2 linked regions of the Homo sapiens genome follow. The protein of the gene in region 2 purifies or fractionates together with the protein of the main gene of each other region. This does not show direct contact. Each region holds a gene or a part of one and is shown on either strand. Other genes may lie near its edges. The genes, in order: SHTN1 and OR4E2.

Evidence for each region.
Region 1: the proteins of OR4E2 (region 2) and SHTN1 purify together in Homo sapiens (affinity purification with mass spectrometry, with the first as the bait; one large-scale study listed by BioGRID). This does not show direct contact.

Annotation. Positions count from the first base shown.
Region 1 is NC_000010.11:116,883,071-116,886,906, forward strand, and holds part of SHTN1 (shootin-1), read right to left. Parts: intron 3,497-3,836; coding exon 3,274-3,496; 3' UTR 1-3,273. UniProt on the Homo sapiens protein: Involved in the generation of internal asymmetric signals required for neuronal polarization and neurite outgrowth.
Region 2 is NC_000014.9:21,663,539-21,666,028, forward strand, and holds part of OR4E2 (olfactory receptor 4E2), read left to right. Parts: intron 1-1,536; 5' UTR 1,537-1,544; coding exon 1,545-2,486; 3' UTR 2,487-2,490.

The sequences.
Region 1 (3,836 bases), on a different chromosome or scaffold from region 2:
AATGAATAACAAAATAACTAAATTAAATTAACCAAAGAGGTGATTTATTACAATAACCAGGTCAGCAGTGTGACTTCAACACAGAGCAGTTTACTCACCTATCCTCGAGACTGCACTCACCAATGGATAATTAGCATTTTAATTTAAATTTCTTAGGGTGCTAGGCACTCTTTCTACTTATACTTTCTCTCTCTTGTGTTATATAACATTTAATATGAAATATATTTATATAACTGTATATATAATATTATCTGTGAAAGAAATGAAAGAAACAGTCACATACCAAATTAAAATGACTGTGGGATAGGGACATGTTAGTGCTTGGAAGAGAAACTTCAAACCACTCCAATCCTTATGCAGGGACTGCTTGATGAGTCTTTGAAGGTCAGTGATAATGACAGATGGTTATCCATTCTCGACAACTTACTGGTATATAAGCTAATGTTGTTCCACAACGAGTGTAACTGAACAGGTAGAGTATGCATTTAGAAAAATAATCCAGACTTGAAGGCTGTGATACAGACTATCATTTACTGAACACACAACCAAAAACTGGTCTGGAAAGACAATTAAAAATAATTGTTACCTGTACTACTCCATTTCCAGCAGTTTACCATTAACAAAGAAGGTAAGGAAGGAGCAATTATTGGTGAGTAGTTAGAGCCAAAGCATCCATCCTCCGTACTCAGGGCAAACTATGCTGGGTGCTAATAGCCCTGTTGATGCCTGCCAGTCAGAACTTCCATGGGACTGTTCAGCTGCTGAAACTGCTGTGGGTGAGGACTTTGTTTGAGACCAGCTCACATACAAAAGGGTGCAAGTGCTTTAATTAAAATCTTATTCTTCCAGAAAAAAAAAGAGACATTTTCTTTTTCTTTAATAGCAATGGCACAAAGTACCTCTATCTCTGTTCCTCACTCGGGCTATAAAATGCATCAACATTCGTTTTTCTTAAAGAAAAAAAATCCTCTATAGCGCACAAGACTTAATTTATCTTTCCCAAACAGAAGGAAGCATAAATAACCTTTTAGAGAAATCAAAAACATAAAGATGCAGTCTTTTCCAACTTAAAATTGTGTAAGCAGGACGTATGTAAGTTTTGTGTGTGCAATAGCTATGAACATACCTTGCAGATATAAGCACGGTTCTCCTATGTCTTCCTATTTGGGATCCCTTGCTTTGGTTGACAGTGTCACCCCAGCCAGGGGCAAAACCCCCTCAAAACCAAAGTGAAAAGGGAAAAACTGTAGGCAGAAAAAGGTGAGTGAATATCTTCCATCAAATACCTTCATGTCAAATTAATTTAAAATGCTTTGTAATCACAGTGAGAGAAAGTAAGCAGCTTAAAAAAGGCAGGAATACTTTCAAAATACCTGTTACTAATTGTTCCCTAGTCCAGCTAACACATTTCACCCAAAGGGCAACTTCTTACTCTAGAAAGGAGGGTATTTTGATAACCATATTATTCTGTGATGGTGTGATGAAATATGGAAAGACAGTGTACATATTTTTATATTCCTAAATGTGTGTGAGTTGCATGCTGGCAGACAGATCACAGATGCAAGAAGGAAGACAGCACAAAGAAACATGAAAGAAAACTCAATAAACCATCTTAGGGACTATTAAAAATTACTAAAGTTGTCAAATCATATACAATTTTCTATTAAAGAATGTCAAGCTTGGGGAACTAAACCAGAAACGTTAATAATAACCACAACTGACCCTTAATGGGAAACTATTGGTGCCTTTTTAATAAGTTGTGGTGAGGAGAGTTCAAATTACAGCATAACAGAATTCGTTTCGTGAATTAATGCAGTCTGTAGTAAGCATATCATATAGCAGTATTATCCAGTTAAAGAAAGATACAGTTGAAAAACATTACGTTTTAATTCTCCATGAGTAAAGTGATAAGTAACTATAAAATCATTATTGGGAGAACATGGAAACAGTCAAGCATAACGAACTTACAGAAAGATAATTATCTCCAAATTTAGGAAGTACATGTACCTGCCTACCCACCTCTTCAAGCCTATGCTTACCACACGTGCAAAAATACAATACAATACAACTACTGCAATTATTACTATCATTTTCTTTTGCCCTTAGGTGAAAAACACCTGACAGCTACATGCTGAGCCATGCTAACAAAACTAAACCTTTCACTTTCTTTAATAGTAAAATTACCATTACTGAATCATTGTCATAAAAAGTGCATTCAAGTACATTACCACTTATTTTAAATAAACACCAATTTTGAAACAATCAACTTTGAAAAGCTGCATAAGTTTTTTTTTTAATCCCTGATTACATTTCTATTTATTCACTGTGGTAGCCTGAAACATTGTATTTTTAGAGACTAACTACTGCTTAATTTCTTTTTTAAAAAAAACAACAACAAACCTGTGTAATATAGAACAGCAGTGAAGCAAGAAAAATGTGTGCTTGTCACTTATCTTCACCATACTGTACATAAGAACTCTGATAAAATATGGTACTTGTGCCACATTAGTATTTGGGAAAACATAATTAACTCATAGCACAGAGCACATGGTTTACCAACTTACTACTGTAAAATTCAAGGTTTGGACTTTCACCTCAGTTCTGTATTCAGGCTACCAGAGCATCCCCACGGAGGTCCTCGGGAGGCTTTGGACACAATCAATAGCATGTATTTTTCATCCAATAGTTAACAATGTGTGTAATTAACACTGACTATGGGACTACGAGTTTGATGCCAGCTCCTGAGTTTTCAGTTTATCTCAGTCTACTGTAGAAAATAACTTGTATGCCACAGTACCCAACAATTTCCATGCTGCTGCAGTTTCTCCATCAAGAGGATCAGACCCAAAACAGAAGCTTCTTTGGGGGCTTTTAAAATCACATTGGGTTGATCAGTTTTGTTTATCCGATTATATACAAGCACCTCAAACTTTCAGCATTCCATTTGATGAGTGGTATGCACATTTCCTAAAAAGGTATCAACATCTGAATTTTTTTGTAACCTTCTAAAAGAAGTCATACTTAATACAGTAACTAGGAAAAAAACCTCATCTTTATAAAGATCAAAAAACCAAAACCTACTAGGAATGTGTGTTTTGCTAAACAGCTTACTTATGTTTATAGTTGCTACTTACAAAAGTGACACCAGAAAAGAACCTGTATTCTGAATACAGTGACCAGAGCAGAATGTCTACAGCCCTTGCCAATATAACAACACTAATCATGTGCTTATTGAAAAGGACTTCCAAACATGTCAGGCTTCTGGTTTATGGATCAGCAGTTGGAGCTGTCTGTCTCTCTCACGTTTTCAATGCTGTCTTCTTTGTTTTCTGGTTGAATTTCGCCTTCATCCTCCTTGTGTTGAGTTGGATCTTTTTCAGCAACCTGGTCTTTGGTTTGGGGTTCATGTGTAGAAACAGGATCTAAAACTACAACTGGTTCGGCTTGTTTTTCACCGTCAATGTATTTTTTCCTGCATCCAATGCTACTGGGAGGCCTATGAGATGAAGAGTTAGACAAAAAAAGTAAAAAGCAGAGAGAGAAAATAGTTGTCTCTGATATTCTGGATTCAGACTAACATAAAACCCAAAATGTTCTAAGTCTAATCAACATGCATATAGTAGTCTTTGAGATGCCAGCCATTTAAAAGAAAAAATGAAGCTATCAGATTACACAGCTGATACTAGGAGCACAAGGCCAGAAGAAAGAAGGCAGAGAAAGAGCGATTAACTACAGAAGTGTTAAAAAGCCAAATGCACCTACCTGCTTAATTGCATTCTCTTCTCAGGAAGCGTAAAGCTCATGGACAAACTGTGAACTTCTCACAGCCTGCTGCC
Region 2 (2,490 bases):
TATTTTACAGGTCAAGGACCATAAAAGAAGCCTGAGAGGGAATAGATAGGCTTTGACTGGGTCAGGAAAGTTTTCTTAAAGGTAGTGTTCTTTGAAATAGTCAAAGACAAAGTGAAGGATGAATAGTATTTTTTTCTTCACCTTTAAGTTCATGGATAAGTGTGCAGGATGTGCAGTTTTGTTACATAGGTAAACGTGTGGCATGGTGGTTTACAGCACAGATCGTCAGGTATTAAGCCCAGACCTCCACAGGTGTAGAGTGGGTCCACGTGTTCTCATTATTCAGCTCCCACTTATAAATGGGAACATGTGATGTTTGGTTTTCTGTTCCTGCATTAGTTTGCTGAGGATAATGGCTTCCAAGTCTATCCATGTCCCTGCAAAGGACATGATCTTGTTCCTTTTTATGGCTGCATAATATTTCATGGTGTTATGTACCACATTTTCTTTATTCATTCTATCATTGATGGGCATTTAGGCTGATTCCATGACTTTGCTATTGTAAACAGTGCTGCAATGAGCATACATGTACATGTATCTTTATAATTGAATAATTTATTTTCCTTTGGTTATATACCCAGTAATGGGATTGCTGGGTCAAATGGTATTTCTGGTTCTAGATCTTTGAGGAATCACCACACTGTCTTCCACAATGGTTGAACTAATTTACAGTCCCATCAACAGTGTAAAAATGTCCCTTTTCCTCCACAACCTCACCAACATCTGTTCTTCTGTTGTTTTTTGGCTTTTTCATAATAGCCAATGGTATCTCATTGTGGTTTTGATTTGCGTTTCTCTAATGATCAGTGATGTTGAGCTTTTTTTCCTGTTTGTTGGCCACATAAATGTCTTCTTTTGAGAAGTGTCTGTTCATGTTCTTTGCCCATTTTTAATGGAGTTGTTTGTATATTAATAGTAAACAATGAGGTGAGGAGAGTACACTTGAATAGAGTGTATGTTTTCTGAGCAGAGGGAAAAGAAAAAGTAAAGACAAAGATTTTGGAAGGTAAGTAGGTGGAGGTAGGATGCCTGGAGGACAGTGACTTGCTTGGTCAGAGAGAAGAATTAATAGGGAGAATAAAAGGACACTCACATTGAAAAAATGAAAATGTGCAGCAGACTGTTGCAGGCTTTGAATGTATATCTAATTTGATAGAAGAGTCAAATTATTTAGTTGGGAGTTGTATTGGAATATTAGCTTAATGTTATCAGTGCTTTAGTTTGAAGTGAAAAGAGCCAAATAACTAATGTGTAAGGTTTCGGGCATTTATTTATTCTTGTAAAGGCTCACTGATCTCATCTGCAAGGCAGAAACAATTGATTCATGTGCCATAGGGTGGTTGTGTTTAAATAGAAGTGCCTGGCATGGCTCCTGGTAAGTAGTGGGTATACTGTAACAACTACTGTTAAATTGATTTCATAAGCTATATGCTCTGATGATAAATAAGCAATTCAGATAAGAATACAAAGTCATTTCAATTAGTTCTATTCCTATAATAATAAAACTAAATTAGCTTTCATTTTTTCCCCCCTAAGCTCATTGAATGGACAGTCTAAACCAAACAAGAGTGACTGAATTTGTCTTCTTGGGACTCACTGATAACCGGGTGCTGGAAATGCTGTTTTTCATGGCATTCTCAGCCATTTATATGCTAACGCTTTCGGGGAACATTCTCATCATCATTGCCACAGTCTTTACTCCAAGTCTCCATACCCCCATGTATTTCTTCCTGAGCAATCTGTCCTTTATTGACATCTGCCACTCATCTGTCACTGTGCCTAAGATGTTGGAGGGTTTGCTTTTAGAAAGAAAGACCATTTCCTTTGACAACTGCATCACACAGCTCTTCTTCCTACATCTCTTTGCCTGTGCCGAGATCTTTCTGCTGATCATTATGGCGTATGATCGTTACGTGGCTATCTGCACTCCACTCCACTACCCCAATGTGATGAACATGAGAGTCTGTATACAGCTTGTCTTTGCTCTCTGGTTGGGGGGTACTGTTCACTCACTAGGGCAGACCTTCTTGACTATTCGTCTACCTTACTGTGGCCCCAACATTATTGACAGCTACTTCTGTGATGTGCCTCTTGTTATCAAGCTGGCCTGCACAGATACATACCTCACAGGAATACTGATTGTGACCAATAGTGGAACCATCTCCCTCTCCTGTTTCTTGGCCGTGGTCACCTCCTATATGGTCATCCTGGTTTCTCTTCGAAAACACTCAGCTGAAGGGCGCCGGAAAGCCCTGTCTACCTGCTCGGCCCACTTCATGGTGGTTGCCCTCTTCTTTGGGCCATGTATCTTCATCTATACTCGGCCAGACACCAGCTTCTCCATTGACAAGGTGGTGTCTGTCTTCTACACAGTGGTCACCCCTTTGCTGAATCCCTTCATTTACACCTTGAGGAATGAGGAGGTAAAAAGTGCCATGAAGCAGCTCAGGCAGAGACAAGTTTTTTTCACGAAATCATATACATAATGGG